Linked DNA regions of Homo sapiens: all the other regions are linked to region 3. The links come from fine-mapping of genetic effects on gene expression. A gene starts in region 3. Each other region holds a variant in brackets. All regions are shown on one strand. Distances are from middle to middle.

Evidence for each region.
Region 1: its variant is fine-mapped to the expression of RCBTB2 in whole blood (TOPMed, PIP above 0.99).
Region 2: its variant is fine-mapped to the expression of RCBTB2 in whole blood (TOPMed, PIP above 0.99).

Annotation. Positions count from the first base shown.
Region 1 is chr13:48,560,565-48,563,330 of GRCh38, reverse strand. No RefSeq gene overlaps it. Among named protein-coding and RNA genes, the nearest start is that of LINC00462, 19 kb to the left of the region's middle. RefSeq lists an enhancer at 1,636-1,735. The variant G/A (reference allele first, on the strand shown) is at 1,085.
Region 2 is chr13:48,490,901-48,493,666 of GRCh38, reverse strand. The region is part of intron 14 of RCBTB2 (RCC1 and BTB domain containing protein 2); the gene reads left to right. Among named protein-coding and RNA genes, the nearest start is that of RCBTB2, 41 kb to the left of the region's middle. RefSeq lists an enhancer at 107-186. The variant G/A (reference allele first, on the strand shown) is at 1,129.
Region 3 is chr13:48,531,836-48,534,601 of GRCh38, reverse strand. RCBTB2 (RCC1 and BTB domain containing protein 2) reads left to right here and starts at 1,522. Exons shown (of 15, transcript NM_001268.4): 1 at 1,522-1,574. It overlaps LOC124903174 (a long non-coding RNA gene), which reads right to left. Exons shown (of 2, transcript XR_007063795.1): 1 at 2,553-2,766. RefSeq lists silencers at 1,307-1,356, 1,467-1,866 and an enhancer at 1,907-2,146.

The sequences.
Region 1 (2,766 bases), 29 kb before region 3:
CACTGCAATCTCCACCTCCCAGATTCAAGTGATTCTCTTGCCTCAGACTCCCGAGTAGCTGGGACTACAGGCATGCACCACCACACCCGGCTAATTTTTGTATTTTAGTAGAGACAGGGTTTTGCCATGTTAGCCAGGCTGGTCTTGAACTCCTGACCTCAGGTGATCCACCCGCCTCGGCCTCCCAAAGTGCTGGGATTACAGGTGTAAGCCACCGTGCCCGGCCTGATTTAAATGAAGAACTGATTGCATTTGAAACCATTTTGACCAATAGAGGAGATAGTCAAGTATTGCTGGAAATAAAATGTTTTCTGCCAGTTGCTTTTGGTTTCAGCAATCTTGAGTAGAGATATCATTGAAAAAGAAATCTGATAGGAAGAATTCAAGGCAAAGAGACCATTGTGGTTGAAGAGGCCTATCATTCTAGACAGAGATGGGAAATGGCATTGCCTAACATCTAAGTTAATCTAGACAGCTGCAATGGTCAGGAGCCCTTGTTCTGCAGCCTCCACTGCCCAGTTTCAAGCCACATCTGCTGTATTATATTAACCTTGTCCACCTTTACCCTGTATGACACTACTATAATTAGGTTCCTTCTCCCTTCAGGTAAGAAATCATTAAAAAATTTTTTGGTGTTCCCATAGACTTTGTCCAAGCTTAGGCGTATTATTTAGTTGGTCTGAGGAAATTGTACCAAGTTTGAGTCTGCAATTTTGGGCAGAGAGGTTTACTCCATGGCAGAACAGAAACCCACACCTGAATCTCCCTGGTTCAAATATGAAGCCACACTTTGCATGAGTAAGTACTTCTGTGGTTCAGAGGCAGCTCTCACTACCTCTATGGGAGCTAACTCTCATGCGAGTGGTTTGAGGTTTCCTTCTCTGAGGTGAGTGTTGCTTCCTGCAGATAAGCGACTAAACATCTCAAATCAGGGTGTATCACATTTTCTATGAAGGTGATATTCAGTGAAGAAGACACTGGTCCACATAATTTCTATTTGCAGTAGACTTGTTTTTTGATTTATCATCGTCATCCTGAAAGAATAGCTTTCAACAGCAGGTTTCTGTATACTTTTGGTCTGTGA[G/A]TCCATTTCAGTGAACATTTTCTAAACACTGTCATTGGGTTCACTGTTTTGACAGGTCCAGTAGAGAAAATGGTCCTTTCAGGAGCAACATCTAGTTTATTTTTCCTGTCACTTTACTGTAGTTTAGATACATTTGCTTCAAGTTGCATGGGTTGTTTTGTGTATCTCAGTCACTTACTTCCTTTTTCAAAAACATCAGAGCAGTAAATGGTGCAATTGCTGCTGAATTTTTTTGTGTACTTTATTCCCCTGATTAAGAGTGTGTAAATTCACTGATTCAGATGCTACATAACAATAAACCTAAAAATAGTAATATCAATATTTATCAATGTTTACTTGGTAAATGACAAATTTATCATGACCTTAAATATTTTAAAAATTAAATATTACTGCAAATAGAGTCACAAAAAATGACTGAGCATTTTGGGTTGGATTTTCAAAGTCTTAATGGAATGAGTAAGTCTGGTTTCTTAGTACTAATCTCTCAAAAAATCAAGGTGTTTGGGAAAGAGCCAATATTATAATGAGCTTGAGGAATATTATCAAATTAGTCCTGGTTGATGCAGTGACTGTCCTAACTTGTGAAGCCACTAGTCTCCATTTGAAGATGTCAACATCAAAAGTGAAACCGTGCCCACAGTGCTCCAGGCAGTGAAGAGGAAACCAAAATGAAAAAGCCTCACCCCCATGAGCTTCTAATTACAGGGAAATAATAGGTAGGAGATTGTAAGGGACAAATGAACAGAAATAACAAGATAATATTGAGCAAGAAGAAATTTTAGAATGAGCTCAGGAAAATAATTCCATCAAACTTCTCAGTATAATCACTGGAGCCATTATACTGCATAATGTTGTTGGGGCTATTAGTATTAATAATAGTAATCATCATTACTACAAGTGCAGTGGAGAGAACAATTTTGCAGCTGTAGAAAGATAGTACAGATAGACTTCAAGAGAAATGTCCCTTCAGTCACATGATGCCATGTACAATATGAATTCTAAGAAAAAAAGATCCTAACCATTTAATTACCAAGAAAATGCTGCCTGACCACATTCGAGGGAAGTGTCTTCTTTACAACCATACTCTTTTAATTATAGAAGATAATTTTTTTTTTTCGTTCGGGTCTCACTCTGTCTGCTGTGGCACAATCATGGCTCACCGCAGCCTCTACCTCCTGGGCTCAAGCGATCCTCCTATCTCAGCCTCCCGAGTAGCTGGGACTACAAGTAAGCCCCACCCCACCTGGCTAGTTTTTGTTGTTGTTGCAGGTCTTGCTATGTTGCATAGGCTGACCTTGAACTCCTGAGCTCAAGCAGTCTCTCACCTTGGCCTCCCAAAGTGTTGTGATTATAGGAGTGAGTCCGGCAGAGAAGATGATTCTTAATATAACTGACTCAGCTGAAAAAACACCAGAACCGAGAAGGGTCGTTTTACTACTTGTTAGTTAGTAGCACATTTATCCATCTTACTATTTTCTTTCCTCTTTCAGAAATAACCTGCAAAATAAGTTTACCTTGTAACCCTGTGTAAGAAATCAGGTAAAGGGTATAAAATAGAATTTTAGATAAAAATTAAGATGTATAGATTATTTAATAGAGCATTTTTATAGAAATTTTTTATTGAGATAATTGTAGATTCACATGCAGTTGTAAGAAATAATCCAGAGAATACTTTCTACCAG
Region 2 (2,766 bases), 41 kb after region 3:
AGCAGAGACCTGAAGGAGGTGTGGGTGGTGTGTTCTGGGAAAAGCAAGCCCGGTGTGGAGGGAGCACAGTGGGGAGGGAAGTAGCTGATGAGGCAGGGAGATGGTGCGGTGGAGGTGCACAGTGGCGTGTGTGGGAGGAGGCAGGGCCTGCAGAGTCCATAGGCAAGTTTCAGGAATCAGAGTTCCAAGGTGAGTGGCCATCAGAGGGTTTGGAGAGGAGCAGATATGATGGGCATTTGAAGTAATCCTCCTGCCTCCTGGCTGCTGTGTTGAGGAGGGAGGGAGGGAGGTAGGGAGAGAGAGAGAGGGTGAGAGAGAGAAGAGAAGAGAGAGAGAGAGAGAGAGAGAGAGTGTGTGTGTGTGTGTGTGTGTGTGTGGAGAGAGAGAGAGGGTGAGAGAGAGAAGAGTGTGTGTGTGTGTGTGTGTGTGTGTGTGTGTGTGAAGGAGGGTACTTAGGAGGCTGTATAATCCAGTAAGTGATGATGGTGGATTGGTCCAAGTTATCACCTGTGGGGATGGTAAAAAGTGGTTAAGATTTTGAATACATTTTGAAAGTAGAGCCAACAGGATGTGCGGATGGATTAGATGTGAGGAAAAAAAAGACGACTGAGGAGGTTCTGTCCCTCAGCAGCTGTAAGGATGAAAGTGGCATCTATTGAGATATAGAAGATAGGAGCAACATTTTGGGGGAAATATCAGAAATTTGGTTTTGAATATGAGAAGTATGTGATGTCTATTAGACATCCAAATGGAAATGTCTAATAAGCAAATTGGATAAGCAAGCCTGGAAGTCAGAGAGAAATGTGCTGAAGTCAAAGCTATGAGGCAGTGACGTGAGACAGGTTTGAAGATTAAGTCCTGAGCACTCTGTGCTTAGAGGTTAAGGAGATAAGGAGACACCAGCAAAGGAGACTGAAGAGGAGTGAGCAGTAACGGAAGAGAGAAACCAGCAGACCGTTTCCTGCAGGCTGGGAAAGAAAGCGAAACAGGAAGGAAGAAGTCCGAACCACACCAGATGCTGCTGGCACGTCTGCACGAGGACTGAGAACTGACGAGTGGGTTTGGCGATGAGAACGCCGGAGGGGCCTTGGCAAGCAGTTTTAGCGCAGTGAGGCGGGAAGTCTGATC[G/A]GAGCGTGGAAGTAGAGGAACTGAAGATGGGGAATAGAGGCAGCTTTTCATGGTAATTTTATTATAAAGATAAAAAGGAAGAGCTTTGGGGCATTTGAGGTAAAACATCTTTACTTTTTTAAGATGTGGGAAATGGAAGCTTGTCTAATGATGCAAATGACTCAGTGAAGGGGAACAAGCCAGTGATGCAGGGGACAGTTGGTAGAGCAGGGCCCCTTAGTAGGTGGAGCAGTGGGATCTAGTGACAGAGCAAGGGCTCTGCTTTCTATAGGGTCTTGGACCTTTGATCCAGAGAAGATTGCATCCACAGGCCTCTCTGTAATAGGCAAGGAGACGTGGTGGGGAGAGCTTGTGGAGGTTCTTTTCAAGTGATTCTGGTTCTCAGTGAAATAGGAAGTCATGTCAGCTGAGGATGAGGATGAGAGGGGAGATGTCAGGCTTATGGGGAGAAGTATGAGAGTCCTGTAGGAGAATGAGCAAACTAGGAGAATGTGGTAGGACTGCAGGACAGAACAGAGGGCCCCATTTTGAACATGAAGCCATACAGAGTGGTAGCATTCAAAATAGACTACAATTCTTTAACTGAAAAATAATGGGGGCCTTGTTTTCTATGGACAGAATTCCCCTATAACCAGTACCACCACCCTATGCCAATTTATTGAATTCTTAGAATCACAGGAACTCTTTCCAAGTCCTGTCCTTAATTTAGTATTTAGGGGAAGATCCCACTCTAGAATAAAGTAAAGGAGCATGGATCCAAGTGATAACTTTTTAGGGTCCTTTCATTCTCCCATTAATTAGCAATTTTCCTGATGCTGTCCAGATCTGTGAGGCATCAAACTGCCCAGCCACCTAACTCCAGACACACTCTAATGTGTGTGGTGTAGGTATGAATTCCTCCATTCCTCTCTGTAGACTTCAGCCAAAGAGATGATGCATCTCTATCTGGTTTCACTTTTGTGTGCTGTAGGCAAAAATGTCATTTCTAAAAATTTAAGCAACAGCACATAATTTTAAATGGACTCTGAGATATTCAGCATGTATCATTGAAGCACATTTTTATGTATAGTATGCTGTGATGACAAGTGGGTGTGTGAATTTTCCCTGTTTATCACTGAGGGCTTACCTGGGACAGAGACACATCATATTGCTGGTGTGGTACCAACAGCCTGCCCAGTTATCTTCAGGCATGAAATAAACATTTTCCTAGTATAGTTTCTTTCTTTTCTTAAAAGAAAATGTACCGTAGGTTTATATGTACATTGGCAAGGCTATCAGCATTGCTATTTTTTTTATTTTTTCCATCTTCAGCATTTGCTATAATTTATGTCTAAAGAAGAAAAGACTATCGTGTGTAATGTTCATATGTAATTGCTTAGAAAGTATTTGGGGCTTTTATTTTTTATAAATTACCTACAGTAGCTTGGAGAGGAAACTTTTAAAAATTGACCACCACCTAGCAGCATCTTGTCCTAGGCCAAGTAGCCTAGGGTTTGAGGCATATTGGAGGTCTCAGCACCCTGCCCTCACTTCTCCAGGGCCAAAAAGCATCTGGTCAGCCTCATTCTGATTTTCAAGTTATAGTTCTAATCAAGAGAATTATTACAGCATTATTCTTTGGCCCAGAGTGCATTACAG
Region 3 (2,766 bases):
AAAACACTAAGACATGTTTTTATTGTTAGCTAATTGTCAGGCTTCAGCTGAAGCACACCGTAAGGCCTGCATGAACTTCAGCTGTCCATAATGCGTAAAAGACCAAGTGCGCAAGGCAAACAGATCTTGCCATGGTTGCTGATGAAAGAAACTTAATCTCTTGGGGCCTGAGTTGCCTTATCTGTAAAGTAAGGATAATCCTTGCCTTACAGGATTATTGTGAGCTCCAAATAAGATAAACCTCTTGGCACACAATAGGTGCTTAAAAAAAAAATGCCAGCTATCATCACTGAAGTGAGCTTTTTCTGAGAGCAAACCTGTTTAACTCATAAATTTCTTTCATTGATAAGATGTAACCAGTGGAGAAACTTGGGGCAGGCACACGATGCCTCTCTGCACTATCGCTGCAACTTCCTGTTAATGTATACTTACTTTTTCTTCCATTTAGAGCTCTACAAGAAATACCTGTGTACCATTTTGCGTGCCTCCTTCTGAGGCTCAGTGGGCTATGCTCAGAGAATAGAGATAAATGTCTGCCCTATGTAGCAGAAAGGCAGTTATACATTTTAGAATGATGTTTTTCCGAAGAAATGACAAAAGCCAGACGAAACAGACTGACACGGTCACTGTGGTTTGGAATGTTAGTTTTTCTCTTTGGCTTTACTACTTTTGGCTCTACACTGTAGAGGAACCAGTGTCCTCATGAAACAGCCAGTATAAAAGCAAGTAGCTTACTTCACAGGAATAGCTAATAACATTTAATTGTTGAGCATTTAACCAAAACCCACTCAGGTCAATTTAAGTGTAGTGCAGTGGAAGAAATTATTGCACACTGCAAAGTTGTGGTGCATTTTACTTAAATCTACAAAGGCCAACAGAAGTGCAGTGTAATATAATAAATTACTGCAAAATATAATCATAAGGGGAGAAGGTGGCTGTTTTCGAAGCCCTTGGCCCCAAGGTAACTGAGGTCATCCCCCTGAACCCCCCAGCACACATCCTCATTATTTCAGCATTTGTACTACAGGGGGCTACAAGACTTCCGCCCCACAGCAATGGGGTGAAAACGTGAAGTGATCGGAGCCCCCAGATAGAGGGGCCAGCAATAGAAGAAAAGCTGGGGCAGGCTGGAGGAGAGGGGCTGTGGAAAAGGTTGCTCTCAGCATCATACACGCCTTATCCTTCTAGGTCGGGTATCCACAAATTCCCAAAATTTGCGAGAACATAACCCTGGAGAAGGTGGGGGTGACCCACGGAGGAACTCCCTGGAAAAGCGGAGGCGGCCCCAATGGGAGACTCCCGGGGGTCAACTCCGAGGGGAGGGGGCGTCTGCGAGAAAGGGGAGGGGCGGCGGTGGGCAGCCTAGGGAGGAGAGGAGGGGCGAGACGCCGTCGCCAGCCCCCTCCTCTTGTCTGCGCTCCCTTCGTTTCCGTCTCGGCCGGGCACCCGAGCGCATCCCGCCGAGGCCGGGCCGTTTCAGGGGGAGGCGCCAACTCATCGCGGCGCCGGGCCCCTGACCGTGCAGTAACCGCTACCCAGGAGGCGGAGCGGACAAGGCTCCGGCCTGCGAGGAGGTAAGAGGGTGGAGGAGTGGTGTGGGAGGCCGAGGGGGATCGCGGCCGTGACGTGGGATGCTGTCAGGTACCACTGGGGCAGGCCACCCCTCCCCGCCCCTGCGGCCCGACCTCCCCGCCAGAGACAGCTGAGGGGCCCAGGGGACTAGAGCCGCGACCGTGCCACAGGCCTAGGCGTCGTCGCGCATGCGTAAAACTGCTGGCGGGAGTTAAGAGCTAGGTTCCGGGGCTACACCCAGCCCAGGCCGCAGGCAGAGGCGGCCCTGCGCATGCGCAATTCCGCTGGCGTGGGCCCGGTGCGCTGCTCGCGACTACATCCTGCCCAGGCCGCCGGCCCAGGCTGCGCTGCGCATGCGCGAGTCCTCTGGTAGGGGTCGCGTTTGGCGTCGTTCCAGGGTGATCATCTGCTCGGAGGCCGCTCTCATCCTAAGCTCCCACGTCTGGTGTGGCTGGGGGGGCGTCACAGGTCCCGAGGGAGCGTCCTGCCTGAAGTTTCTCCCTCCTAACCCACTCGCTGCACTGCATATGTTGCCGATGTTTTCATTTCTGTGGCCTCGACCCCTAGGCTCCCGTCCCATAAATCTAGTACCCCAGGTCCCGGGCACCGGCCCGGCTCACTAACTCAGTGGCAGTATATGCTTTCGACATTTGGTCCTGATGTCCAGGAATAGCGCGAAAAGTTTGACTTTGTTAGGCGAAGCCGTTTTGGAACTGCGGAGGGATGGGAAGAAATCGCCGAGCGTCTTAAGCCGCAACATAGTGCTCTGCTCAGCCCTGGAAATAGAGGTTTTCAGACATTGAAAACTTTCCAAGTGCTCCGTCTTGGCGGAGAAAGAACTGAGTTGGAAGGCTAATTTAGAATGAACTTTTTGCTTTTGTTCTTTGCAAAAATTACATAAAATGTTGCAACAGTTCGAGACCAGGACTATAACAAAACGCATTTCATGGAGCTACTTTGTACCGCGCTTGGCGACTTACCTTGTCAGAGCTGAATAAAAGTGGTTGAGTTCACAAACAGTGCTCTGGATCGTTGCTCTTTCCCCCAGACACTGTTTAACGTTTATTGAGCCTCCTGGCTTTGCACCTTCCTAGTATTGCGTTCCTGCTGGGTTTTACACCTTACTAGACAGTGGGTCTTAGTTAAGTCAGTTTCGTGACTCCTGGGGCTACTGTGAAGAGTTTCTAACAATGT